Linked DNA regions of Homo sapiens. The protein of the gene in region 1 binds, or shares a complex with, the protein of each later gene. Each region holds a gene or a part of one and is shown on either strand. Other genes may lie near its edges.

The links.
Region 2: the proteins of APOBEC3F (region 1) and CBFB are in contact, whole or in part, in a cryo-EM structure (PDB 6NIL), measured with the Homo sapiens proteins. Residues at the interface, in NP_660341.2 of Homo sapiens: Glu289, Leu291, Ala292, Arg293, His294, Ser295, Asn296, Glu324; in NP_001746.1 of Homo sapiens: Phe32, Asp34, Arg35, Arg43, Glu54.

What each region holds. Positions count from the first base shown.
Region 1 is NC_000022.11:39,032,480-39,048,062, reverse strand, and holds the start of APOBEC3F (DNA dC->dU-editing enzyme APOBEC-3F), read right to left. Parts: upstream 7,200-15,583; 5' UTR 7,103-7,199; coding exon 7,086-7,102; intron 5,127-7,085; coding exon 4,973-5,126; intron 3,981-4,972; coding exon of another isoform or gene 3,846-3,980; exon of another isoform or gene 3,640-3,845; intron 3,123-3,639; coding exon 2,843-3,122; coding exon of another isoform or gene 2,636-2,842; coding exon 2,521-2,635; intron 2,305-2,520; coding exon of another isoform or gene 2,187-2,304; exon of another isoform or gene 1-2,186.
Region 2 is NC_000016.10:67,030,142-67,044,771, reverse strand, and holds part of CBFB (core-binding factor subunit beta), read right to left. Parts: intron 8,134-14,630; coding exon 8,017-8,133; intron 1-8,016. UniProt on the Homo sapiens protein: Forms the heterodimeric complex core-binding factor (CBF) with RUNX family proteins (RUNX1, RUNX2, and RUNX3).

The DNA.
Region 1 (15,583 bases):
CTCACGGAGGAGGAGCCTGTGTCTGGAGTCATGTGCATCCTCCTCTGTTCACAGTGGAGGCATCTTTGGAAGAAGTGACTTATTTTCTGGTACAGAGACCATTCCCTCCCCCACATCCTCTCCTAAGACTTTGTGTTGAAACAAAGTAAATCTTGCAGAAATTCCATGGAAGTGCTGAGAACAAAATGCCTGATTGCTCCAATCATCCTTTGGTTCAATTTTCTCAGTTCCTGAGCTCAGGAATGGCGAGAAGCACAGAGAGGGAGCACCATCCCAGGGCGGGGAGCAATAGCAAAGGGGTGACTTTCGGGGGAGAGTCTCAGCAGGGGGCCTGGGCTGGGGCAGGTGGGGGAGATGGCCCATTCAGAAGCTGTAAAGGGGCGACCACATAGCAGGGCAAAGAGCCTGGCTGGTAGTGGGAGCAGCAGAGGAACCAGAGGGGAGAGAGACTAGCGCTGGGGCAGGGGCAGGGGGAGGCCAGGCTGAGGCCCAGCAGGGCCACCAGGCAGGAAGGGGCAGCAGAGGCCCCGTGGGCAGAGCGGGCAGTGGTCCCTGATCTGGGGCTTCATGTGCACCCTCCCTGGCAGGCTTGTCCTGGCCCTGATGGTAGTCCTGGGCTTGGGTTCTATTTTATCTTCCAGGGCCCTTGTTCCAGGAGACACCTGCGCTGTGAGTGACCTCACAGGCCCATCTGAGTGCAGGTCTCACTTTATGCTGCTTTCTCACCTGGATGGGAGGACCTCCAGAGGGACTCCTGGATCCTGCCCTCAGGAATCATCCCAGGGACGCCCCCCACCCGGTAGCTATGTGGTAGGGAGGGAGAGTGAGGGGCAGGTGTCTGCTTCCCCCTTGCCTTCACATTCAAAGGCCACCATTGGAGGGAGGAATAGCGGGTGGGGGTGCCCTCAGATGTCCCCCCAGGATGCCATGCGTGCCCCCACACTGAGCTCCTTCCTTCCACATCTCCTGCCCAGAGTTGTTCCCTGGCAGGCTGAGCTCTTGTCCCTATGTCACAGAAGGGTGGAGGCTGGTGTCCCCGGCCACCCTGTCTTGCAGTTTGCTCCTCCGGTCTAAGACCCAGGTGCTCAGTTCCCGTCTCTCCCGAGGGCCTTAGATCCCTTTCTATGGCCTCTCTGGTCTCTGGTTGCCTTTTTCTATTGTGCTTCCTGGAGAGCTCCTGGCATCTCAAGCCTCCCATTATCCAAGCCTACTCTTTTGCAAAATCTTACTCAACACCTGGCCAACATTGCAAAACCCCGTCTCTACTAAAAATACAAAAATTAGCCAGTGTGGTGGCATGAGCCTGTAATCCCAGGTACTTGGGAGGCTGAGACAAGAGAATTGCTAGAACCAGGAGGTAGAGATTGCAGTGAGCCGAGATCGCACCATAGCACTCCAGCCTGGGCGACAGAGGGAGACAGTGTCTCAAAAAAAAAAAAAAAATCTTATTCAATTGGGACCTTGATCACTGAGTGTTTGTTTGGCTCTTTCTGCATCTCCATCCCTGTTGGGGGCAGATTTGAGAAGGGACAGGCGTGAGCAGAGGCCGGGCTGGGTGCTGTTGGGTGGGGAAGCCATGGGGTGGGGCCCAGGGTGCAGCAAGGTCTGGAGGGAGGGGCTGTGAGAGTCAGGGCAGGACTCGCCTGGGAGACAGACACACAGAACAGGGACCCCTGCATGCCCCACGCAAGCTTGACCCATTGTCATGGACTAAATTGTATCTTCCCCACATTGATATGTTGAAACCCTCATCCCCACCTCCTCACAGGATAACTGTATTTGGAGACAGGTCCACTAAAGTGGTGATTAAATTAACTCATGGCCCTTAGGGTGGGCCCTAATCCTGTCTGACTGGGGTCCATAAACGAGGAGGACATTTAGAGGCAGAGAGACCCCAGGGGTGCAGGTGCACAGAGGAAAGGCCAGAGAGGACAGGGCTGGAAGGGACCCCCTGCCAGCCAAGAGGAGCAGCTGCAGAAGACACAACCCCGCCCACCCCTCCACCTTGGACTTGCAGCCTCCAGATCTGTGAGAAAATAAATGCCTGCCCTGTGGGCACCCGGCCCGGGGGCATCTTCTATGGCAGTCGAAGCCTGAAGTTTCCACAGAGGCTGCTCCTTCTCAGGGACTCAGGTCGGCCTTGAAGGATGTTGCTCAAAGCTTCTGGCTGTCGGCCTTGTGAATATTCATGCCCACTTACGTCCAGTTTTATGACAAATTCGATTATGCCAGGGAGATGGAAGGAGCCAGGTTGGGGATCCCAGGCTGTGGGGAGGGCGGCCTCGAAGGTGGATGGAGGTTGCTCTGGAGGCAGAAGGGGCCTCTCACTCATAGGAGGGGCCCAGGAAAGAGGGAGGAGGCAAGAAGGGGAAGGAGCACAAGGAGTGTGGGTGAGGGGTGTAACCATGAGGGCAGGCAGGGGGCAGGACGGAGGGCAGGAGGGCCTGGCCAGGGGAGGCCTCAGGAGGATGAGCAGGAGGCGAGAGGAGACAGACGATGAGGCCAGAGGGAGACCCTCACCTGAGAATCTCCTTTAGCGTGCGGTGCAGGAATGCATAATTGTCATCGAATTTGTACCAAGGCATGAATGGCTGACCTTCACTGTACACAAAGTTTTCCCAGCAGTATGCAAATTCTGAGACGAAGAGGCAGGAAGCAGTCAGGCTCTGCCCTGACCCTGGGCCCGCGCTCCCAGGCCTGGTCTCCTGGCTGTCAGTTGCTGTCAGTGCTGGCCCCGCCCCTGCAGGCTGCCCTGGGACACCCCCAGCCATGGCATTGCAGATCCATCCATCTTTCATGCTGTTCCTCCCGCTCACGCTCCCCTGACCCCTCCACCTCTCACCTTCATCGTCCATAATCTTCACGCGGGCCCCTGCCTGACTCAGCCTGCAGAGCGCCCTTCGGTAATCTCTTTCCCAGTAGTAGTAGAGGCGGGCGGCGGAGATGGTCAGGGTGACATTGGGGTGCTCAGCCAGGAATTCGGCCAGCTTCGCCACACAGTCCGGGCAGGGGGTCCAGGATACAAACCAGGTGATCTGGAAACACTTGTAAGCAGGCAGCTGGTTGCCACAGAACCAAGAGAGGAAGCACATTTCTGCGTGGTGCTCAGGCTGGGAATACACCTGGGAGAGGAGCAGGGGGCAGGGGATGCTCTGAGAGGGGGAGCAGGAGGAGTGCAGGGGTGGGGCAGGGAGAGGAGGGGCCAGGACAGGAGCCCAGGGGATCTTGCCATTGAAGCTCCTTTCCTCCATCCCCCCTGTTTAGTTTGAGTGATTGTCTGCTCCAAAGCTCACGTTCAGTGTTAATGGCTATTGTAATGGCCTTAAGAGGTGGCACCTAGAAGAGGCTATGAGGCTGTGGGGGCTGCACCTTTGTGGGTGCTACTGGCGTGTTTATTCAAGGGCGACTTCAGCCCCTCTTTCTGTCTCTTGCCCTCTAGCTGGGGGGGCAGTATGTCAGACTAAACTGCTTCCTCTTGTCCCCGTGGCATGGAGCAGCAGTGACTCGACATCCCAGGCCACTCTGTCTGGAGCATCCCCTGAACTTCTGGCAACAACCTTTACCCCCACGTGACTGTGCAGCTCGCAGGCCCTGGAAAGTTGCTGGTGCATTGACAGTGGACTTCCCAGAGGCCAGAACTCGAGCCCATACATTTCTGTTTATTGTAAATGTCCCCATCTCAGTCCTGCTGTTGAAGCATCATCACAAAGTGCACCAAGACATGAGCTTCCCTTCGTTTGGAAGTTTTCCCAGCCCTGTTCAGAGCCTCATGCGTGAATTCTGGCATCCATTCTCCCAGGCATCCATTCACCAGGCATCCTCAGCCCCTGCTGTGGCCTGGCCCTCTAGGGTCTGCCTTGTTCCCTGCCTGCGGTCAGCTGGGGAGGCCACTGGACCTGCGCTGTCCCATGTGGTGGGGCGCACTGGCCAAAGGGGCTACTGAGCACTTGAAATGGGGCTCTGATGAAAGACCTGGGCACCTGAAAAATACACCATACACCGCTCATTTATCTTTTTTTGTTTTTTGTTTTTGTTTTGAGACGTAGTTTCACTCTTGTTGCCCAGGCTGGAGTGCAATGATGCAATCTCGGCTCACTACAACCTCTGCCTCATGGGTTCAAGCGGTTCTCCTGCCTCAGCCTCCCAAGTAGCTGGGATTACAGGCGACTGCCACCACACCGGGCTAATTTTTTTTTTGTATTTTTAGTAGAGACGGGATTTCACCATGTTGGCCAAGCTGGTTTTCAAACATCTAACCTCAGGTGATCCACCCACCTCGGCCTCCCAAAGTGCTGGGATTACAGGCGCGAGCCACCCACCAAGCGTGGCCTACACAGCTCATTTCAAAGACTCAGTGTGACAAAAAGAAACTTCATTATCTTGTCAAGAATTTTATGTTAATTAATGTTGAAGTAATATGTTAGCCACATTGGATTAATTAAATATTAAAATTAGGCCGGCGCTGTGGCTCACACCTGTAATCCCAACACTTTGGGAGGCCGAGGCAGGTGGATCACCTGAGGTCAGAAGTTCGAGACCAGCCTGGTGAATATGGTAAAATCCTGTCTCTACTAAAAATACAAAAAAAAAAAAAATTAGCTGGGCGTGGTGGTGGGCACCTGTAATCCCAGCTACTCGGGAGTCTTAGGCGACAGCATCGCTTGAACCCAGGAGGCAGAGGTTGCTGTGAGCCGAGATCGCGTCATTGCACTCCAGCCTGAGCAACAAGAGTGAAACTCTGTCTCAAAAAAAAAAAAAAAAAAACACAAGGCCTTTTGTGCAAAGGCAAACCCCCTCCACGATCCGATCCCAGGACGGTCCAGCAGGAAGGTCAGGGCCACGGACTTGGAAAGTGTGGGAGAGAAGGACACACTGGATAGCCCGCCGCCGGGCACTTCACTTATCAGTGCGTGGTTTGCTTTCCCAGCTGGCTTAGCTCCTGCCTGCAAAGTGATTGAAGTCCGGGTGGTACCTGGCCTCGAAAGATCTTTGCGTCCAAACGGGGCCTTGAGGGACCCTTTGTTTTCACTTCGTAGCACAGCCAGACGGTATTCCGACGAGAAAGGATGGGTCTATTATAAAAGTTGTAGGAGAATGTGTCTCGATACATTCGCTCCACTGTGTTTCTGAAGACACAAGAGAGAAACCAGCCAATGTAGAGAGCGCTCCCGGGAGCCCTCAGGGCTGATGTCCACTAAACACAGCCCCCTGCATGGCTCTGGGCCTCCCCAACCCCTCCACAGCCCTGAGAATTTTTGCTTCCTTCCCAGGCAGGAAGACCGGGGAGAGAGCAAGAAAAGGGGATGCTGGCATGGGCAGCAGGGGCAGGCTGACCTCTTCCAGCTCAGGGTCCAGCTCTGGTCGTTCCAGGAGTACATTCCCCACCTTCCCAGTATTTCTCCCACCCATTCTCCAACGCATTAGTAAAATGCAAAAGAGAACAAAGTTCTTGGCTGGACATTATGGCTCATGCCTGTAATCCCAGCACTTTGGGAGGCCGAGGTAGGCCCATCACTTGAGGTCAGGAGTTTGAGACCAGTCTCACCAACATGGTGAAACCCAGTCTCTACTAAAAATATAAAAATTAGCCAAGCGTGGTAGTGGGTGCCTGTAATCCCAGCCACTGTGGAGGCTGAGGCAGGAGAATCGCTTGAACCTGGGAGGCGGAGGTTGTAGTGAGCCGAGATCGTGCCACTGCACTCCAGCCTGGGCTACAAGAGCGAAACTCCATCTCAAAAAAAAAAAAAAAAAAGAGAGAGAGAATAAAACTATTCACCCCAAAATAATAGATTTTAACCTTTCAGCCAGTTCCTTCTGACATTTCACCTCTGTATATTACTATTGTTAAATCATGGTAGAACCGAATTCTGAGGCCCAGGCCACTCTTCTAAGTGCTGCGCGGATGTGAGCTCATGTGAGGCTGCCCTAGGCCCGCACGGGCCATTCCCATCTTACAGAGGAGGTGCCAGAGGCGCAGAGAGATGGGGTAACCTGCCCAGGCCACAGAGCTGGGGACGGATGGGGCTGGGGCCTCTTACCAGACCAGCCCTGTCCAGTCTCTGTGTCACCAGCCTTGCAGGAGGGAGCCATTGGGGACCAGACTCTCTTCTTACTAAATTTTAAAATAATAGCATTTCTCCTGATCATTGAGTTTTTTTCCCATATATTCCATGTTTTTTGTTTTTGTTTTTTTTTCTTTTGAGACGAAATTTGGCTCTTGTTGCCCAGGCTGGAGTGCGATGGGGCGATCTCGGCTCACTGCAACCTCCGCCTCCTGGGTTCAAGCGATTCTCCTGTCTCAGCCTGTGGAGTAGCTGGATTATAGGCGCCCGCCACCACACCCGGCTAATTTTGTATTTTTAGTAGAGACAGGGTTTATCCATGTTGATCAGGATGGTCTCGAACTCCCGACCTCAGGCAATCCACCCACCTCAGCCTACCAAAGTGCTGGGATGACAGGTGTGAGCCACCGCACCCGGCCACTATATTCCATGTTACTCGTGTCATTTATAAACAGTGAATGCTGATAGTGGAGGAGGAGCGTGTGTTTGGGGTCATCTGCATCCTCCTCTGCCCACAGTGGAGACATCCTTGGAAGATACGATTTATCTTGTGCTTCAGAGACCATTCCCTCCCCACACCCTCTCCTAAGACTTGCTATTTAAGCAAAGTAAATGTTACAGAAAATCCATCAAAGCACTGTGAACAAAATTCCACATTGCTCTAATCATCCTTTGGTTCAATTCTCCCAGTTCCAGAGTTCAGGAATGGCGGAAAGAACACAGAGGGAGCACCCTCCCAGGGCCGGGAGCACCAGCCCTGCCATGACTTTCGGTGGCGGGGGAGAGTCTCAGCAGGGCACCTGGGCTGGGGCAGGTGGGGAAGCGGCCTATTCAGAAGCAGCAGTGGGGCAACCACAGAGCAGGAAAAAGAGCCTGGCTGGGAGTGGCGGGGGCAGGGGAGCCAGAGGGGAGGGAGCCCAGGGCTGGGGCTGGGGCAGGGGGAGGCCAGGGCTGACGCCCAGCAGAGCCACCAGGCAGGAAGGGGCAGCAGAGGGGCCCAGCGGGTAGAGCGGGCAGCGGTACCTGAAGTGAGGCTTCATCCTTGGCCGGCTAGTCCCGACTAAGATCTTTGTCTGGAGCACCAGGGTTTCACTTTCTGCTCCAGGCTCCAGGTTTCAGGACAGCCCTCCCTAAAGTGACCTCCCAGGGCCTCGTAGTCATGGCCCCTCCCCCTTCCTGCTCAGGCGCTGGTGTAGGAGGCCCTGGGACGCTTTATCTTCCTCAGTCTCTCACCCTCTTTCTGGTTTTCTCTGGGGCCCTCCCCCTGGCAGAGGGACCTCTGATAAAGACAGGCCGCTCTGTGCGGCAGGACCCAAGGCAATTGCAAAGGGAAAGAGAAAGTCATTGCAGCCAGCGCCCGCGAGGTGGGTCCACACCAGGCTGAGCCAGCAGAGCACAAGCCCCTCCCCTGGTGGTCCCGCCCAGCTGGAGCCTCCTCTCCACCATCAAGACAGACAGGCTGATGCCTCCGCAGGGACTCCCGGATCCTGCCCTCGGGGATCATCCCAGAGACGGCCCCCACCCAGCGGCCATGGGGACAGGGAGGGAGAGTAAAGGGCCAGGTGTCTGCCTCTCCCCAGGCCTTCACCCTCGGAGGCCACCGTGGGAGGGAGGGACAGCAGGTGGGTGTGGGCCTCAGATGTCCCACCGGGATGCCATGCGCGCCCCCACACTGAGCTCTTTCCTTCCTGCTTCTCCTTCTTCCCCATCTCCTGCCCGGAGTTCCTCCCTGGTGGGCTGAGCTCTCGCCTCCTCTTGTCCCCATGTCATGGAAGAGCAGTGGCTGGTGTCCCAGGCCAGCCTGTCTGGAGCCTCCCTGCGCGTCTCACAGCTCCCTTCCCCTGGTAGCGTGTTCCCATGGCGCGGTGACCTAAAAATTACACAAGGGATGCATTTGGTTTTTTTGTTTGCTTTTGTTTTTTTGTGTTTTTTTGTTTGTTTGTTTGTTTTGAGACGGAGACTTGCTCTGTTACCCAGGCTGGAGTACAGTGGCGTAATCTCAGCTCACCGCAACCTTTGCCTCCCAGGTTCAAAAGATTCTCCTGCCTCAGCCTCCCATGTAACTGCGATTACAGGCACCCACCCCTACGCCTAGGCTAATTTTTGTATTCTTAGTAGAGACAGTGTTTCTCCATGTTGGTCAGGCTTACAGCCGCCCACCACTATGCCTGGCTAATTTTTGTATTTTTAGTAGAGACAGGGTTTCTCCATGTTGGTCAGCTGATCTCGAACTCCCGATCTGAGGAGATCCGCCCGCCTTGGCGTACCAAAGTGCCGGGATTACAGGTGTGAGCCACCGCGCCTGGCCACAATGTATAAATTTGGAAAGGAGATTTTATTTCTTGTTAAGGGTGACAGGCAGCAAGGTAGCCATCCCGCAGCCTGGGAAGAGCAGCCTCTGGGAAACACCAGAGACAGACATTTAGAAGCAGGAGGGGTTGGGGCAGGAGCTTTATGCTGAAGGGGTTGGCTAAACATACATATTCAACAGGCTATAGGAGGAGCTATGAATATTCATGTGGGTGGCTGCACTCCATGCTTATTGAACAAACATGCGTGTAACATATGATCCCAGGCAGGCACAGTGGCTCACGCCTGTAATCCCAGCATTTTGGGAGGCCGAGGCAGGTGGATCATCTGAGGTCAGTGTCAGGCCTCTGAGCCGGAGCTAAGCCATTGTGACCCCTGTGAACTGCACATATACATCCAGATGGCCTGCAGCAGCCAAGAAGTCTGGAGCAGCCAAAAAAACACAAAAGAAGTGAAACAGCCAGTTTCTCCCTTAACTGATTAACCAACCTTAAGACATTCCACCATTAGGACTTGTTCCTGCCCTACCCTAACTGATCAATCGACCTTATGACATTCTTCTTCTGGACAATGGGTCTCATGGTCTCCCACCATGCACCTGGTGACCCCCTCCCCTGCTGACAACAGATGACCACCTTCGACTGTAACTTTCCACCACCTACCCAAGTCCTATAAAGCTGCCCCTCTCTTATCTCCCTTCGCTGACTCTCTTTTCAGACTCAGCCCACTTGCACCCAAGTGAATAAATGGCGTTATTGCTTACACAAAGCCTGTTTAGGTGGTTTTCTATACAGACACGCATGACAGTGAGGAGTTCGAGACCAACCTGGCCAACATGGTGAGACCTGGTCTCTACTAAAACTACAAAAATTAGCCGGGTGTGGTGGCACGTGCCTGAAATCCCAGCTACTCGGGAGGCTGAGGCAGGAGAATCAGTTGAACCCAGAAGGCAGAGGTTGCAGTGGGCCGAGATCGCGCCACTGCCCTCCAGCCTGGGAGACAGAGTGAGACTCCATCTCAAAACAAAAAACAAACAAACAAAAATCTAAAAAAAAAAAAAGCAACCGTATAATCCGTCCTCACATTGCGGTGGAGACAACATTTAAATGTACCACAATTAAGCCTGTATGTCAAAAGGTCCTTTCAGGACATGAAGGCACCAAAATTTGCCAGGTCTGTAAACCATTCAGAACTAGTCCGTGGTCCGTGGTCTTCCGATCTGGAGAAAGTTACTGAAATCAGTCTCTTGTCCAGGGAAACCTGGAATTAGGGCTGTGGAGCAGGGGCTCTGTTGCTCCGCGTCCGGGCGCTGGGTGAGCTGTGATTGTTTTCATCTTTATCTGGAGGCAGTGCTTGTTTAGCTGCTAGAGCAAAAAAAAAAAAAAAAAAAAAACCTTGGGGCAGGCAGAACAGAGTTGACTGTTTAAGTGTGGGGTGTGTGATCTCACCCTTGCCTGGCACGGCCTGAGGTCCTGGTTGTGATTTGGTATCTGATTGCCATGAAGAGTCTGTTCTGGTTCTGCCCATCTTATGATTCTGTTTTAACATTACTGCTGGTCAGTTGTGTCTAAACTGCAAAAGGGCGGGGTGATAATGAGGCGTGCCTGACCTCCCCTCCCATCATGGCTGGGAACTCAGTTTTAAGGTTTTTCTGAGATACCCCTGGCCACTGGGGGCCAAAGTTGGGGGGGATCGGTGGGGGCTAAAGACTTTATTTTTAGTTCATAGGCCTTTGGACTAAGCTCTGATTTGTTTTTATTTAATCTTGCCCAAAATCCTATCTAAGGGGTCTGGGGAGTCATGCCTTACAACCCGTACATCCTCATCAGAGGGGTTCTATTTTTTTTTTTTTTTTTCCTATTGTATTTTAATGGAGGCCGAGTTTCACTCTTCTTGCCCAGGCTGGAGTGCAATGGTGTGGTCTCGGCTCACTGCAACCTTCGCCTCCCGGGTTCAAGCGATTCTCCTGTCTCAGCCTCCCAAGTAGCTGGGATTATAGGTGCCCGCCACCACACCTGGATAATTTTTGTATTTTTAGTAGAGACAGGGTTTCACCATGTTGGCCAGGCTGGTCTTGAACTGCTGACCTCAGGTGATCCACCCACCTAGGCCTCTCAAAGTGCTGGGATTACAGACATGAGCCACTGCGCCCGGCCCACATGGGTTTTATTTAACCCTATATATTGTGAGTTACTTTCCAATCTGACTCAGGCACAACATTATGTGACAAAGTAAAAAGACAAAATATTTTACCCCAAAACATGTTTCTTTGCCATATCTTGAAATGGCCCTGCAAAGTTGTCCTTTGTGGGGCAAAATTTGTATCTGTAAAGAATCTCTATTAACATAGCTGGATCTTTTTCTTCTAGGCCCTCCCGGTCCTAAACAGATGAACTAATTGCACCTTTTAAAGGCCTGAATGGGAAACATTTGTCATCTATTGTCTCTAAGGGCAGCCACTATGAGACTTCAAAAGAACCTTGATCTCCACAATCTTTTATCTTAACCTGAACGTTTCCTTTCTATGGATGCCAGGTCTCTAGACAAACTCAACCAATTGTCAACCAGAAAATGTTTAAATTTACCTGTAGCCTGGAAGCCCCCCAGCACTCCTGCCCTCACTTTGAGCCGTCCGACCTTTCTGGAGCAATCCGAAGTATTTCTTTTCTTTTTTTTGAGACGGAGTCTTGCTGTGTCGCCCAGACTGGAGTGCAGTGGCGTGATCTTGGCTCACTGCAACCTCTGCCTCCTGGGTTCAAGTGATTCTCCTGCCTCAGTCTCCCGAGTAGCTGTGATTACAGGTGCCCAGCACCACACCTGGCTAATTTTTTGTATTTTTAGTAGAGACGGGGTTTCACCATGTTGGCCAGGCTGGTCTAGAATTCCCGACCTCATGATCCATCTGCCTCAGTCTCCCAGAATGCTGGGATTACAGGCGTGAGCCACCACGCTCAGCTTCTGTATTTCTTAAATGTGTTTGATTGATAGCTGATGCTTCTCTAAAATATATAAAACCAAATTCCTATCTAAGGGGTCTGGGGAGTCATGCCGCACCCACACCACCTTGAGCACACACACATTCTCAGGACCTCCTGAGCCCTGTGTTACGGGCCATGGTCACTCGTATTTGGCTCAGAATACGTCTCTTCAAATATTTTACAGAGTTTGACTCTTTTTGTCGACAGGCCCAAGACCCAGGTGCCCACTCCCTGTCTCCTCGGAGGGCCCGCGCTTCCAGTTCTCTGGCACCTCTGGTTCCTGGTTGCCCTTCTACTTTCTGTTCTGCTTTCTCGAAAAGCTCTGAGCATCTCAAGCCTCCATGTAGTACCCAATTCTACTTTTTATTGAAAATCTTACTTAAACACCAACTTGATCACTGATCAAGTTTTCTTGGCTCTTTCTCAGTCACGTTCCCTAGGCTGTGTCCTAGCCCAGAGCTGCACTGCTGGGAGGGATTTGAGAAGGGAGGGGCATGAGCAGAAGGGAGGGCTGGGTGCTCTTGGGTGCAGGAGGGTGGGCTGGGTGGAACATGCAGGAAGGTCTGGGTGGAGGGGCTGTGAGGGTCAGGTCAGGACTCCCCTGTGAGACAGACACACAGGACAGGAACCCCTGCACTCCCCACTCAGGCCCGCCCACAGTGACTGTGGCTTGTTGCCATGTTGCCCTGTTTCTCCCAAAAATCAATATACTGAAGCCCTAACCCCTCTACCTCAATGTGTGGTTGTATTTGGAGACAGGTCCTTTTCAACAGATGATTAGTTAATTAATTAATTAATTTTTTTGGAGATGGAGTCTCACTCTGTCGCCCAAGCTGCAGTGCAGTGGCACCGTGTCGGCTCACTGCAAACTCTGCCTCCCTGGTTCAAGTGATTCAAGCCTCAGCCTCCCGAGTAGCTGGGATTACAGGTGCCCACTACCATGCCCAGCTACTTTTTGCACTTTCAGTAGAGGTGGGTTTTCACCATGTTGGCCAGGCTGACCTCCAACTCCGCCACCTCAGCCTCCCAAAGTGCTGGGATTACAGGCGTGAGCCACCGCACCCAGCCAACAGATGATTAACTAATTAATTAATTTTTTTTTTTTTGAGATGCAGCGTCACTGTGTCTTCCAGGCTGGAGTGCAATGGCACGATCTCAGCTCACTGCAACCTCTGCCTCCCGGGTTCCAGCGATTCTCCTGCCTCAGCCTCCCGAGTAGCTGGTATTACTGGCATCCACTACCACGCCCTGCTAATTTTTTTGTATTTTTAGTAGAGACGGGGTTTCACCATGTTGACCAGGCATATTTCCAACTCCTGACCTCAAGTGATCTGCCAGCCTCAGCCTCCCAAAGTGGGAGGATTACAGGCGTGAGCCACCACGCCCGGCCAAGATGATTAATTTAAACGAGACCTCTAGTGTGGGCACAAATTCACTTGGCGGGGGTCCATCAAGGAGAAGGGTGGCCAAGTGCCCTGGCTCATGCCTTTAATCCCAGCACTTTGGGAGGCCGAGGTGGGCAGTCAGGAGTTCGAGACCAGCCTGGCCAACATGGTGAAACCCCATCTCTACTAAAAAATACAGAAATTAGCAGAGAGTGGTTCTGGGCGCCTGTAATCGCCGCTACTCAGAAGGATGAGGCCAGAGAATTGCTTGAACCTGGGAGGCGGAGGTTGCAGTGAGCAGTGATCATGCCATTGCACTCCAGCCTGGGCAACAGAGTAAAACACCGTCTCAAGACAAAAACAAAAACAAAAACAAAACAAAACAAAAAGGCCGGGTACGGTGGCTCATACCTGTAATCCCAGCACTTTGGGAGGTGGAGGAGGGTGGATCACCTGAGCTCACGAGTTCAAGACCAGCCTGAGCAACATGGAGAAACCTCGCCTCTACTAAAACTACAAAATTAGCCGGGCGTGGTGGCGCATGCCTGTAGTCCCAGCTACTCAGGAGGCTGAGACAGGAGAATCGCTTGAACCCTGAAGGTGGAGGTTGCAGTGAGCCAAGATTATGCCATTGCACTCCAGCCTGGGCAACGAGAGTAAAACTCTGTCTCAAAAAAAAAAAAAAAAAAAAAAGATGATATTTGGAGGCAGAGATACCCCAGAGGTGCAGGTAGGTGCACAGAGGAAAGGCCACAGAGGACACAGCCAGAAGGGATTCCCTGCCAGCCAGGAGGAGCAGCCTCAGAGCAAACAACCCAACCCACCCCTCGAACTTGGACTTGGAGCCTCCAGATGTGTGAGGAAATAAATGCCTGCTGTGTGGGCACCTGGCCTGGGGCATGTTCTGTGGAGGCCACAGCATGAAGGGGTCATTTTTATAGAGAATCTCATTCTCTAATAACTTACATCTGCCTAGAAAATGACAAGTCAAATTTAAAGTGTGGAGAAGAGCCTCTAATTTCACATTTCATTTGCAAAGAAAGAATTTGGGACATACACGCAGTCTGGGTGGTGTTCACCATGTTGGGAGAACAGAGACAGCAACAGGTTTTATAAAAAGGAGAAATGGGCTAGGCGCTGTGGCTCACACCAGCAATCCCAGCAATTTGGGAGGCCAAGGAGGTCGGATCACTTGAGGTCAGGAGTTTAAGACCAGCCTAAGCCTGGCCAGGTGGCTCGCACCTGTAATCCCAGCACTTTGGGTGCCCGAGACGGGTGGATCACCAGGTCAGGAGTTCAAGACCAGCCTAGCCAAGATGCTGAAACCCCATCTCTACTAAAAATACAAAAATTAGCCAGGCGTGGTGGCACACCCATGTAATCCCAGCTACTCGGGAGGCTGAGGCAGGAGAATAGTTTGAACCCGGGTGGCAGAGGTTGCAGTGAGCCCAGGTTGCACCACTGCACTCCAGCCTGGGTGACAGAGCAAGACTTCATCTGAAAAAAATAAAAATAAGCCTGGCATGGGCAACATGATGAAACCCGTTTTTACTGAAAATACAAAAATTAGCCCGGTGTGGTGGTGCACGCCTGTAATCCCAGCTACTCGGGAGGCTGAGACAGGAGAATCACTTGAACAACAGAGGTGGAGGTTGCAGTGAGCGGAGACTGCGCCATTGCACTCCAGCCTGGGTGACAGGGCGAGACTCCACTTCAAAAAAAAAAAGGAGAAATGTTCTCTTGCCCTGTGGGAAAGCCCACCATGGGCACTAGGAAGTGTTGGGAGCTGGGAGGTTCCATTGCTGAGTCACTGCGTTTGGAGCAAGGAGTCCAAGACTTACAGCCATTTATGGCAGAAGCTATGGATAAAGCTGGTTTCAGGGTACAATGCACAGTTTCAGGAGTCAGGCTTGCAGATAAGTCCATTTTGGGAGCAATGGTGTGTGGCCTGACTGCTTTTCCTCCCTGGCTGCTGGCCTCTGTTTTAGCTGCGTAGGACATGAATGACCCAATTCGTAGGATGAAACTTACAAAGGATGTTTCTCAAAACTGGTTTTCAACTTACATATATTCATATCCATTTAGGTTGAGTGTATTTATTGATTTATTTTCAGGCAGGGTCTTGATCTGTTGCTCAAACTGGAGTTCTGTGGCGCGATCTCAGTTTACTCCAGCCTCCACCTCCCCGGCTCAAGCAGTCCTCCCACTTCATCCTCCCAAGTAGCTTAAACTACAGGTGCATGCCACCACATCTGGCTTTTTTTTGGTATTTTTTTTTGTAGAAATGGGGCTTTGTCGTGTGGCCCAGGCTGGTCTCAAACTTCTGGGCTCAAGCGATTCTCCCACCTCTGCCTCCGAAAGGCGTGAGTCACCAGGGCCAGACTAGATTGAGTTTAATAAGATTTGGTTGTGCGGCCGAGCCGGGTGGCTCACGCCCGTAATCCCAGCACTTTGGGAGACAGAGATGGGCAGATCACCTGAGGTCAGGAGTTCAAGACCAGCCTGGCCAACATGGTGAAACCCAGTCACTACTAAAAATACAAAAAAAAAAAAAAAAAAAAAAAAAAATTAGCTGGGCGTGGTGGCAGGCATCTGTAATCCCAGCTACTCAGAAGCTGAGACAGGAGAATCACTTGAACCCAGTAAGCAGAGTTTGCAGTGAGCTGAGATCCAGCCATTGCACTCTAGTCTGGGCGACAGAGTGAAACTCCGTCTCAAAAAAAAAAAAAAAAAAAAAAGATTTGGTTATGCTGGGGAGATGGGAAGAGTCAAGTTAGGGGCACCCAGGCTGGGGGAACAGGACTGGGGAGGTGGATGGAGAGCCTCTACAAGAAGAGCCTGGGAGAGC
Region 2 (14,630 bases), on another chromosome or scaffold:
GTAAACTCTGCCAAATTGTGGATGGTATATAAACAAACACAATATGTATTTTGGGACAAAGATCCTGCAGGCAAGTGCGTAAATGGTACCAGAAGAAGCAGAATCATAGACCTTTATTAGAAAAGGCCATTTAAAATAAAATTCTGTCCTCACTCATTAAATCCAATCTTGTTAGATTTTGCTTTATTTTATGCTCATAAAAATAAATTAAAAGACTTTTAAGTATAAAGTCCAGAAAGAAAAAAAATACAACTTATCAAAATTTTTAAAAGTAGCTACTCTAATGACATATACTTAATAAATACTTCTCGATGTCTGACATTAATGTATTTGACTATCAATTAAAATCATAAGCTATAAACAAGAATGTAACAACCATAGAAAAGTTTAACCTCTCTTTTTCTGAGGTCAATGTGGTAAAAACGAGATAGCATATTCAATTTCCACAGAAAAAAATGAACAGTAGCACTGTAAAGTTCATTTTTTTCCTTTTATGAAATGATTTTCATACCCCTTATCTTTAAAGTCATAAACTGGGATCGCAAAGTAAGTACATCCAATCATTATTTCAAAATCCCAATGAAGCTTTATGAGACACAGAATACATGTAAAAACCATTAATCTGACCACTCAAGACTAATAATTTATGGTCAACCATAATCACTTGCATTTATTTGAAATAAAAGTAATTGGAAATAAGTCCTAAGAGGAAAGATCAAAGGAACTGGAGTTGCCTGGTCTACACAATTTTAACTTAAGAATGATTTAAATTCTGATTAGTTGCTTTTCCCTTGTCTTTTGACAGCTAGATTAAAGAATTAAGAACATTTTGGCTGCCAGTGTTTGTAACACACCAGGATGGAACACTTGGGAAAGATGTAGTGTTCCAACATTGTTCAACTACCTGACGTGAAGCTTACCTAAGGCACACTGTAGCACAAACACTCTATCAATCAGTTAGCTATAATCTCACCCTACAGAACCATCAAATTGCCTAACTGTAGACAGGGGTTTACAATTTAAAAGGCATTTTCACATATTCTGGTACTACATTTAATTCTCACATGAGGCACATGAATAGGGCAGACATTCTGATCCTCATTTACATGTTAAGGAAAATAGTTATGACTGTCTTGACTCAAATCTAGAGCTCTTTCTATTATACTGTTATTAGTTTAAATCATTTCTGAGAAAGATCCTTATTAAGAGCCAATGTAGACAGCTCACCAGGTACCTGGGTATAAAAGTTTCAAATATATTTGAAGGATTATAAAATTCTGTGCTCTGACTTGGTCATATGTAAGGTATATACTTATAATCAGTCACCCGTTAACAGACCTTCCTTATAGAAGCCCTTGATTTGAAAATATTCTATAGCCACATAAGCAACAGAATGAATAAAAGGACTAATTTCTATGAGCCCATTTTCTTAAATCATAAAACTGTATTTCAAATAATAGAGAATATAGAGCTTTTTGTTTCCGCTCTATTAGGATTCTAATTTTTTCTGAGTTCGCTAAATTTAAGTGAGTATTATTGTAGCTGGCCTCCAAGATGGCCTCAATGATCCCAGCCTCCTGGTATTCACACCCCTGTGTAATCCCTCCCTCCCTGTTGAATGTGGGCTAGACTTAGTGACCAGCTTCTAATGAACAGGCTAAGCAACAAGTGACTCAAATAATAGATCATAAAAGGTATGAAAGTGACTTGAAGAATGGATCATAAAAGGCATGGTGGACCAGGCGCAGTGGCTCACACCTGTAATCCCAGCACTTTGGGAGGCTGAGGCAGGCAGATCACCTGATGTTAGGAGTTTGAGACCAGCCTGGCCAACATGGTGAAACCCTGTCTCTACTAAAAGTACAAAAATTAGCCACATGTGGTGGCATGTGCCTGTAATCCCAGCTACTTGAGAGGCTGAGGAAGGAGAATTGCTTGAACCCGGCAGGCAGAGGTTGTAGAGCTGAGATTACGCCACTGCACTCCAGCCTGGATGACAGAGCAAGACCCCGTCTCAAATAAATAAATAAATAAATAAAAGGCATGGTGGCTTCACTCTTTTTCTCTCTATGGAGAAGCATGACTAGGAAGTGAAGCCACCTACCAACAGGCAGATCCTTCAGTTCTAGTCAAGTCTTCAGAGACTGCACAGTCCCAGGCAAAAGCTTGACTGCAACCTCATGAGAGACACTGAGGCAGAACCACCCAGTGCAGTCAGTCCCAGGTTCCTGCAAAGGGGCACAAGGAAACCTTTGGGGGGGTGACTGAAATATATCTTGACTGTGGTAGCATCTACATGGGTGCATACATTTGTTAAAACTCAGGCTGGATGCAGTGTCCCATGCCTGTAATTCCAGTACTTTGGGAGGCCAAGGTGGGAGGATTGCTTAAGGCCAGGAGTTAGAGGCCAGCCTGAGCAAAATTTTTTTCTCTTCAAAAAAATTTAAAATTAGCCAGATGTGGTGGCAAATATCTGTCGTCCTAGTCAGTCAAGAGACAGAGGCAGAAAAAATAATGAAACACTTAGAAACAAATGATTTTTTAAAAAGCCTGGGCGTGGTGGCTCATGCCTGTAATCCCAGCACTTTGGGAGGCCAAGGCAGGAGGATCACTTGAGGTCAGGAGGTCGAGACCAACCTAGGCAATATAACAGAACCCCATCTCCACAAAAAATACAAAAATAACTTCAGGCATGGTGGTGCTGGGGTTACAGGTGAGATGCTGTGGTCCCAGCTACACAGGAGGCTGAGGTGGGAAGATCACCTGAGCTTGGGACATTGAGGCTGCAGTGAGCCATGACGGCGCCACTGTACTCCAGCCTGGCAACAGAATAAGACCTTGTTTTGTCAGGGGTAAAAAAAAAAAAAAAAAGAAGGGCAGGAGGATCTCTTGAGCCTAGGAGTTTGAGGTTTGAGGTTACAGTGAACTATGATTGCACCACTGCACTCCAGCCTGGGTGACAGAGTGAGACCCTCTCTCTTAAAAAAAAAAAAAAAAAAAAAAGTAAAGAAACAAGCTGCAATAACAAGCTCCCACCACAACCTCACATGCGCTAAACCAACCTAACCTGCTGTTCAAAATTGTTCCAGCCAGTTTTCCCATCCCGATGACAGTAACCCCATAGTCCCAGTTTCTCTAGCCAAAAAGTTGGAGTCATTCTTTTTTTTTTGAGATGGAGTTTCACTCTTGTTGCCCAGGCTGGAGTGCAGTGGCACGATCTCAGCTCACTGCAACCTCCCCTTCCCGGGTTCAAGCAATTCTCCTGCCTCAGCCTAAGTTAGAGTCATTCTTTATTCTTCTCTTTCTCACACGCCATATCTAATCCATAAGCAAATCCTATTGGCTCTATCTCAAAATACATCCAGGATATGACCATTTCTCACTACCTCTACTGCTACCACCCTGGTCTCTCACCAAGATTACTGCAATAGCCTGCTTCACTTTTGCCCCCTATAACCTATTATTAACCTAGCAGCTAGCATGAGTCTGTCAAAACCTAACGTAGATAATATCATTCATCTGCTCAAAAGCCTGAGCTAGGTGCAGGAGCATGCCTTTACTCCCAGCTACTTCGGAAGCTGACCAAGAGCATAACTTGAGTCCAGGAGTTTGAGTCACCCTGGGCAACATACCAAGACCCTGTCCCTAAAATATAAGCAAACTAAACACTCAAAACTATTCCCCATCTCACTCAGAATAAAAAGCCCATGTGGTTACAATGGCCTACCATGGTCACATGAACTGGCTCATTGTTATTTCTGATTTCATCTACTACAACTTCTTTCACAGTCTACTCCAGCCACAATGGCCTGCTTGCTGTTGATCAAAAACAGGGTGCCACTCTGGGGCCCTTTATAATGGCTGTTTCCTTTGTCCGGAACATCTCTCCTCCACCCCCAACCCCTGCAGGGCTCATCATTCCCTAACCTCCTTTGTGTCTTGGTTCAGGTATGATCTTCCTTACCCAGACCACTCAATTTAAAACTGCAAACTTCCTGTTCATTGATCATCTTTATCCTATAATACCTTTCCTTTTTCCCAAAGGTACTGTCACTTTGTAAGCTATTACATAACTTATTATGTATATTGTCTGTTAAGGATCTCTGTTCACTGATGTATCTCAAATACCTAGGACAATGCTCAGTACACGTAACAGGTGTTCAACAAAGACCTTCTGAATGAATAAATTTTTTGATAACTGTGACAGGTACAGTAGTGGTCAAAACACTTTACATACACTATTTCAGTTACTCTCAACAGCAACCCTGGGAAGTACCCATTAATCTCATTCTACAACTAAGGATTACAATGATTAAACAACATGCCCAAAGTTACACTGTAGTAAATGCAGAAGCCAGAACTTAACTCAATTTTGCCTAACTCTAAAGCCTTTACAACTATAGTTCCTCAAAACTGCGTATGAACAGGACGAGAACTAAGCTGCTTCAGAAGGTAACTCAGTTGAGAGAATATGGAAGAAGACACTGATTTGGAATCCAATATAAGGAACAGAGGCAAATAATTAACATTTGGAGAAGTTCCTTCAATTTTCTTTGCTTCCAGTCCTAGTCCTGTGGGGACAGAAACAAAACCTAATGGTTATAATAAAACAGACCATAAAAAGAGAAAAGAAATTCGAGACCCCACAGTCTGAGCTCCACGGATGAGAAAACACAGGGCAATGCCTTTTCTCTAAATTCACTGGAGAACTTTATTACAGTGGCACGGAACAGTACAGTACGAGTTTTTGCCTTAAAATGCTTTTTTTTCTTCTAGAAAAAAAGTAGTACAGAAGTAGTACAGATGTTGACAAAATTCTATCTGAGAAATACATGACCTATGCATAAACATTTACAGATTTACATCTGAGGGAAAGATACTGATTTCTACCAGTGTCACCATTTATGGAACACAGCCACACTCAATTGTTTACATATTGTCTAGGGTCCCTTTCACACCACAACAGCAGAGTTACAGAGATGAGTAGTTGTGACAGAGACTGAAAGCCTGCAAAACTGAAAACATTTACATTTGTCCCTTCACAGAAAAAAAAACTTCTAAAACCAGTATTAATAAAATGTACATTTCCTGATAGCCTGCATAGTTCTATCACTCTTCCTAATAGAATTAAAAACATATCTTTTTAATACATTCATGTATTGCTTTAACAACGTTACAGCCTAAAATGGATCACATATATGACAGTGGTCTTGTAAGATTATAATGAATCTGAAAAATTCCTATTGCCTAGTGACATCATAGCCATTTTAACATTGCAGTGCAATTGCTTAATTTTTATAGATTTAGTGCGGCCTAAGCATACTATGTTTATATAATCTACAGAATCACATTCATTCACCACTTACTCAACTGACTGACCCAGAGCAACTTCCAGTCCTGCAAGCTCCATTCAAAGTAAGTGCCCTATACAGGTATACCATTTTTTAAATACTGTATTTTTACCATATCTTTTCTATGTTTAGATACATCAAGATACACAAATACTTACCAAATTGTGTTACAGTTGACTACAGTATTCAGTACGGTAACATGCTGTACAGTACAGGTTTGTAGCCTAGGAGCAACAGACTATACCAGATAGCCTAAGTGTGTAGTAGGCTATACCATCTAGATCTGTGTAAGTACACTCTATATATACACAATGATAAAAATCACCCAGCAACACATTTCCCAGAACATATCCCTACCATTAAGTGACACATGACTGTACTAGAATAAACCATCTCACATTTTTGTTATTTTTGGTCATATAACTAAAAACATCTCAATGGTTTAAGTCCAAGGATTATGTGGTCTTCACACTAGTGAAGCAGTATCATTAAATTAATTCAAGCAAACTTAATTTCTGGTAGAGTTAACAACCCATTTACTAGTTATTAAATACCGGAAGACTTCAGTAACACTGAGATGTTGCCCTTGAAGTCTTAAAATAGTTTTGGGCTAAAGCTGACAAAAAACAAATTTTTTTTTTTTTTGGTTTACGTCTTTAGTATCTGAGCTACCATGTTAAACAAACTTTAAGGAAGTATTCAAACAAGAAAAAAAATAATTTCTTCATTTAGTCACACATACACGCACCAGAAGCACAAAAAAACCAATAATCGTACAAGGACTTCTCAAATTCTTCCTTATATATTGTGTAAGAATTACCAAATAGTAAAATCTGGAACATTCACTTTTAATTTTCCAAGCAAACAAGCTAATACACAGGAAAGCAAACTGCTTGCTTAGTACTCATTTTTTTAAATCTTATAATCTGTTTTCCCTTTTCTAATCCAAAGATTGTTTTGTCACGCACAAAAGATCAAATCTAATTCTACAGAATTGGAGAAAACAAAAAATTCATTTTATATATACATATATATGTATATACATACACACATATACGTATATACACACACATATATACATATATACACACACATATACGTATATATACACATATATACGTGTATATATATATATACACACAAGATTAAATTAAATATTTCTCAAAGGAATATTTAGACATTTCTCACATTTTACATAAATGTGGCAGGTTATGCTATTCATGATGACACTTAGAAAATTAATTTAGTAAGTTGATAGAAACGGGTACAAAAACACACTGCAAAACAAACACACACAAAAAAAGTATGAAACTGGATCCAAAAGGGTGTTTTGAGTATAAAACTATATTTAAAAGAGGGTTTCTTCTTTAAAAATTTTATTCTAGAAGTCAACTCCTTGACTTCTCAATCAAGAATCAACCAATCCAAGATGCTATTCATTAAAATTTACCAGGCCAGGTGCAGTAGCTCACTCCTATAATCCCACCACTTTGGGAGGCAGAGGCAGGTGGATCACATGGTCAGGAGTTCAAGACCAGCCTGACCAATATGGGGAAACCCTGTCTCTACTAAAAATACAAAAAAATTAGCCAGGCGTGGTGGCGCACACCTGTAATCCCAGCTACTCAGGAGGCTGAGGCAGGAGAATAGCTTAAAACCCAGGAGGTGGAGGTTGCTGTGAGCCAAGATCACACCACTGCACTCCAGCCTGGGCAACAGAGGGAGACTCCATCTCAAAAAAAAAAAAAAAAAAATTACCAAAATCATAATACATTTAACGTAGACCTGAAATAAGGCTCTCAGCTTAAACATTTTACCTATATTTTTGTATCTTTAACCTAAACTTCTAACATCGAAACTGTAAGACATGTTCCCAGAAACTTTTTCTCAAAACAAAAAAAAAGTATTTCCAAGTTAAAGTTTTCACATTGTTTTTCTCAAATGTAAATTTGCTGTTAATGGAATTAGAAAGTTACCTATGAGCTATTTCTAAATACTATTAATTTTTAAACCTAGAGAGCTTTTTTCCGTTTTCCTCTTGTTTTATTTTTATAGCACTATACTTACATATATTTTTGTAAACAAAATATATCTCCTCAAACTTTTAAAGAAATTGTTATGTTACTTTCCTTAAGGGTTAGAATGTTCTATGACAAATATTATGTACATGAAATTAGGAATGGAGTGATACAAAAGTTTAACAGTGGTTTTAAAAAATTATATTGGCCGGGCACAGTGGCTCACGCCTGTAATCCCAACACTTTGGGAGGCAGAGGTGGGCGGATCACAAGGTCAGGAGTTCGAGACCAGCCTGGCCAACATGGTGAAACCCCATCTCCACTAAAAATACAAAAATTAGTCAGATGTGGTGGCGGGTACCTGTAATCCCAGCTACTCAGGAGGCTGAGGCAGGAGAATCGCTTGAAACTGGAAGGCGGAGATTGCAGTGAACCAACATCACGCCACTGCACTCCAGCCTGGGCAACAAGAGCGAAACGCCATTAAAAAAAAAAAATTATATTACATCCTTATAACATGGAATGAAAACAAATCTGAGCATATGCTGGTATAATCAGATCTGTGATCTTTATTAAAATGTAAATTACCAGATAATCTCTAACAAAACAACCCACAGTATTTTAAATTGCAAAGAAATGTTTCCTACCTTGCCTGCTTCTCTTTCTAAGTCGACATACTCTCGGCTAGGTGTTTGTCGCTGTTCTCCCTGCCAGCTGGCCGGAAAAAACTGGAGAGACAGATTGGTTCCTGTGGCCACAAAAGCCTTTTAGAAAAATCAATACAAACAGGATCAGGAGCAGGACATTACATAAATTATGCAAGCAGTCATTTATTTTTACATCAGTTTATGTCTTAAGCCAGGCAGCACAGAGAATACTTAAAAGTAAAAAAAAACATGCACTCATCATTTTTCTTAAGTATTAAGTTACAAACATCTGATTCCATTTTGAGGACATTTGCCATTGGCTGCTTAAGTATAAAATCAGACATGGAATCAATACTTTCTTTCAGGTCATTTTTTGCTGACGTTAGGATCTCACACTGCTAATGTCTAACCAGAAGCCACTATCCATCTCTGCATTTAAAAACTTCTATTTTTAAATGTAAAAATCACTCAAAATCTAAAGATTTTGAATTTTAAAGAATACCACAATTTAAAATTGTATAAATGAGACACTTTAATTTTCCTTGATTTCCCTTGCTGAAACACTGCATAGCAGGCAGTACATAAAAAATGCACTTGGAATTGTCTCTCCTCTGATAAACCATACATTGGCATGGGATGTGACAGTACTCTCTAAAACCCTAGATGATTTTTAAAAATATGTCTTTTCTCACATTTGACTTTAGGAGAACTTGGTCTGACTACAACAAAGAGAAAAGTATTCATCTAATAAATATTTATAGATTAGATTTATAAATATAAAAGATTTGGATGTTAGAGCTCAACAGATGCAACAATCTAAAACCACTTCAATAAAGTGTCATTTTATGTAGGCCTTGAGCAAGTTACCTCTATATTTCCCTCAGGCAAAAAACAAAGACATTACCCCTTTCCCAAAGGAAATTAAGAAAAAAAGAAGTAAAAGCATTTTTGAAAAAATACATTTTTCATCATCTAAATGTAAACTCTTCTTTGCTGAAACCAGAAAAAGTTTTTTGTTTGGTTTATTCTACTAATTAAGTTCTGAAGCATAATTGGTTTCCATGCATAGAGTCTTCATCTCAAATCAAGAGGTTCACATTTGGGGCAATTTGTTTAAAGCCATCAACCAAGTTAGCTATCCAATAGTTCCCCTGATGGTTAACAGCTTAGATTCTTTAGAGGTAAAAATTATACTTCCTATTTCTATTACTGGCACTGTCGGTACACTTGTCAACCTAAATGCTAAATCTCTAAACCTCTCTGATGGCATTTCCCTAATCAACTGGGGTACCATTTTCATGTGGTAAATGTTTTATATCCATAGAAACTGAACTAACATCAATATTACAACATCATTTTAAAAAATCTTTCAGGCCAGGAGCAGTGGTTCACACTCGTAATCCCAGCCCTTTGGGAGGCAAGGCAGGTAGACCATCTGAGGTCAGGAGTACAAGACCAGCCTGGCCAACATGGTGAAACCCTGTCTCTACTAAAAATACAAAAAATTAGCTGGGCATGGTGGCAGACGCCTGTAATCCCAGCTACTTGGGAGGATGAGGCAGGAGAATCACTTGAACCTGGGAGGCAGAGGTTGCATGCAGTCAGCCGAGATTGCACCACTGTGCTCCAGCCTGGACAACAAGGCGAGACTCCATCACAAAAACAAAAAACAAAAAAAACTTCCCATGTACTACGAGCATAAATCTTAACAAAAAACCCCCCAACACTAGTTAAAAAAAAAAAAAGTTTCTGGGAGGGAAACTGCCCAGGCTGTACGACCTGAAGCATAATTCAGTTTTCTCACAAATCAATTATTTGTAAAGTGCTTAAAACAGTACCAAGTAAATGCTATGAAAGTGTCTGCTGAATAATATGATAAATAACTTTAAGCTCAACAAGAAAGCCAACTTTTTCAGCTTCAGATAATGAAATTCTCAGAGCAGAGTGGTGGCAGAAAAGACACAGCCCATGAACGACTGCCCCGTGTCAAAATCCCTGTGGCTTGTTTCTTCAGTATTCACGTAGTAGCAAATCCTTCCACCTCCAGTGTACCCCAAATCAGTTCTGTGCTAAGACACTCTGCAGATCGTATTACCTCATCTCCTGTCTTGATGCCAACCTCAGAAGAGATTTCCTGCTTCATCACTATATGTCCATTATCTCATAAAGATCCCTCTCTGAGACAGAAGTGGTAAACACAGATCATTCTAGAATAACATTTTCCAAACTTATGTGACCATGGAATTCTTTTAATGAAATACCTACATATAGGTAAGAGTTGGAAAAAGTCTGTTCCAAAATATTAATATGGTGTCAACATCGTCATAGGAAAATAAAGACGAAAATAAACAAAATGAAAACATTAAAATGCTACACTAGTATGACGCCTATATTTAAGATTTCCAGGTTGTCTTATGCTTTGTAGGTTTCACAAATTATAAAATAGCACACCTTGTGCCAATCCAACATACTTTTTACCATTCAATCTTTAGAATTAGAAATATGTATTAGTTTTTACTCTTCTCACCACAGAGTAACCATACTTCTTATAAATATTTTTTCTTTATTTGATTATTAGTGTTGAAGACGTCTCCAACATTCTTAACTACATAAGAATTGGTAAGAATAGGCCGGGTGCAGTGGCTCAAGCCTGTAATCCCAGCACTTTGGGAGGCCAACACAGGCAGATCACGAAGTCAGAAGTTTAACACCAGTCTGGCCAATATAGTGAAACCCCACCTCTACTAAAAATACAAAAAATTAGCCGGGTGTGGTGGTGTGCGCCTGTAATCCTAGCTACTCGGGAGGCTGAGGCAGGAGAATCGTGTGAACCCAGGAGGCAGAGGTTGCAGTGAGCCGAGAGCCAAGATCGTGCCATTGCACTCCAGCCTAGCCGACAGTGCAAGACGCCGTCTCAAAAAAAAAAAAAAAAAAAACAACGGTGAAACTCTGTCTCTACTAAAAATACAAAAACAAATTAGCCGGGTGTGGTGGCAGGCGACTGTAGTCCCAGTTACTCGGGAGGCTGAAGCGGGAGAATGGCGTGAACCCAGGAGGCGGAGCTTGCAGTGAGCCGAGATCGTGCCACTGCACTCCAGCCTGGGCGACAGAGCAAGACTCCGTCTCAAAAAAAAAAAAAAAAGAATTGATAAGAATAAATCAAGGCTGGGTGCAGTGGCTCACTGAGGCAGGCACATCACTTGAGGCCAGCAGTTGGAGACCAGCCTGGCCAACATGGTGAAACCCATCTCTACTAAAAATACAAAAACCAGCCAGGCGTGGTGGCAGGCGCCTGTAATCCCAGCAAGTCAGGAGGCTGAAGCAGGAGGTGGAGGTTGCAGTGAACGGAGATGGCACCACTGCACTCCAGCCAGAGTGACAGAGTAAGATCCAGTCTCAAAAAAGAATAAATCAGATTCTACTACAGATTCTTCGACCTGTGTTCACTTTTATTTAATGCTGATTGGGTTTTACAGTTAAAAACTCAATTGGCATAAAATAAGGAGGCTGATTGAGTTTTATAGTTAAAGAGAGATGATCAACACAGCCCTTAAATTATTTCACATCTAAATGCAAAATGAGGCTGGGAGTGGTGGCTCACGCCTGTAATCCCAGCACTTTGGGAGGCCGAGGTCGGTGGATCACCTGAGGTCAGGAGTTTGAGACCAGCCTGGCAAACATGGTGAAACTCCGTCTCTACTAAAAATACAAAAATTAGCTGGGCATGGTGGTATACGCCTGTAATTCCAGCTACTCAGGAGGCTGGGTCAAGACAATCACTTGAACATGGGGGACGGAGGTTGCACTGAGCCAAGATCATGCCACTGCACTCCAGCCTGGGCAACAGCAAAATGAATTCTTCATTAACCTCACTGATACATCAAGAAGATGTTCCAAATAAGAAGAGGACAACTGGGGCAGGAGAAAGGTTGGGAATAGTTTTGAGAACTATGGATATCCTTGCCATTTATGGCTGCTGTCAAAACAGGCAAAATAATGCCTTTTTCCACAGCCAAATAGGAAGAAACCCAGCCTGTTCATAAGTCATGAGATAAATTTCAGGCATTAAATTAAGCAGCCTCTAAATTCAAATAATCAAGTACCTCTGATATAAAAGGTATTGTGAAAAATAGCTGTATCCAGAGGGGTTTATACAAAATTAATGAGGTCTCTACCCTCTAGGAGCTAAGGATCCTGTAATTAAATGTGGGTTAACACTGAATTAAAGGAGGGAAACTAGAAAGAGAGAAAACTAGGAAACGTGAAATTCCTCTCCAAATACCAATAGTTACATTATTTAACAAAATAAGACATGAGCCGTCTTAAGTGCAAACCTCACACAGCATTCAATCTACCTTCTTTAACCTTTAATACTTCTCAGAAATTTAAAACTTGTAAAATGTGTCGAATCAGATACTTGTTTTATTTTTGGAGACCGGGTCTCACTCTGTCACCCAGGCTGGAGTGCAGTGGTACGATCATGGCTAACTGCAGCCTCGACCTCCCGGGCTCAGGTGAGGATCAGATTATTTGGAAGCGGGGAAGGTCTAGAATGTCTAATTCATCCTGGAAATAAATTCATGACAAACACTAACCACCTGTACTACTACTATAATATTACAGCATTTCAGATATCCTATGGGTTGAATTCATAATTCCATTCAGCAAAGTCTGAGATGACAGAAAACACCCTACTAGCTATGATTCACCAAATTTCCAAAAAAATTCAGCTTTCAAAGATAGTGATGATAATACAACACATGGGGCTGCGTATGGTGACGCCGAGCCTGTAGTCCCAGCTATTGGGAGGCTGAGGCAAGAGGATCGCTTGAGCCCAGAAGTTTGAGGCTGTAGTGCCTCATGATTGTGCCTGTGAACAGCCACTGCACCCCAGCCTAGGCCACACAGCAAGACCTCTCTCTTAAAAAAAAAAAACGAAACAAGACCAGACGCGGTGGCTCACACCTGTAATCCCAGCACTTTGGAAGGCCGAGGTGGGAGGATTACTTAAGGTCAGGAGTTCAAAACAAGCCTGGCCAAGATGGTGAAACCCCGTCTCTACTAAAAATACAAAAAAATTAGCCGGGCGTGGTGGTGTGTGCCTGTAATCCCAGCTACTCAGGAGGCTGAGGCAGGAGAATCGCTTTAACCCAGGAGGCGAAGGTTGCAGCGAGCCAAGATCATGCTGCTGTGCTTCCAGCCTGGGTAACAGAGCGAGACTCCGTCTCAAAACAAAAAAGCAAACAGTGAGAGTACAAGTACTTTGTAACTTATCTTTTATACTTGCATCCTTTACCTCCAGGAAATTCTATCGTCAGGTATACCACCTTCCCTTTGCAAAAGGTAACCCAGGCAAAGGATGACACGATCATCGCACCAGCTAATGAATTCTTTTATTATACCACTCAGTGCCAAAACCTAAAAGTATGTCTTATGCACTTCAATCATATAAATACTACAATTACTCAAGAAATTTGCAAGTGGGCTAAAAGCTTGAGACTCTCTTTCATAACATGCACTAATGACCAAATATTCAGGAGCTCCTGATAAATTTAACCAGTATCTTCTCACTATTACAACTCTAAAAAGCTTTCACTTAAAATATCAAAATATTCTTTAAAAATAAATTTGAGTTCAGTGATGTAAAGGGAGAATTTTATGACATATGAATTATATCTGAATAAAAATAAACTGGTTTTATAAAGGGGGTGGGAGAAGTAAATTTCCAATGTCTTCCTACTGTTAACCCAAATTCAAATCGCACCTAGCTTCAAGCCTCTAACAATGCAGTGAGTCCAAGTCACCGAGCAGAGAGTAACAGCATTCCATTAGACAGTGCTTCAACTTTTTAAAAAATAATCAGGCCAGACGCAGTGGCTCACGCCTGTAATCCCAGCACTCTGGGAGGTCGAGGAGGGCGGATCACTTGAGGTCAGGAGGCCAGCTTGGCCAACAAGGTGAAACCCCGTCTCTACTAAAAATGCAAAAATTAGCCGGGCGTGGTGGCAGGCACCTGTAATCCTAGCTACTCAGGAGGCTGAGGCAGGAAAATCGCTTGAACCCAGGAGGCGAAGGTTGCAGTGACCCGAGATCGAGCCACTGTACTCCAGCCTGGGCAACAGAGCAAGACTCTACCTCAAAAAAATAGTAATAATCAACCTCTTTTCTTGGTTTCTTCCTACCACTCCCTCCTCATCAGCACCTCCAACAAGGCAAACCAAAAAGATGAGAGGAACTAGGACCCTTGGATTTTTTTTTTCAACCCAAGGTCTGGTGAAGACGCACTAAATCTGCCTCCTAAAACAAGGACCTCGAGATCAACCGTGGGTTTTGCCCATCTGTGCAGTTTTTAGGAACAGCAGCCCTACTCAGGACATGGGGATAATGGTTTCTTTCTGATTCTCCTGAAGCTTAACATTCTAAGAAAATGACATTTTTAGGGCCTTTTCCCCCCCCTCCCCTCTCTATTAGAATAAATAACTGGAGGAAAGATTTCTACTCGGCGATCTGGTAGTGAGACCGCTTGACACAGAGAATTACCGACAGATCTACCTTCTAAGAAACAAACTATCGCCGACCTTGAATGAAGCTCCACTTCTTTTTCCGAATGGGGG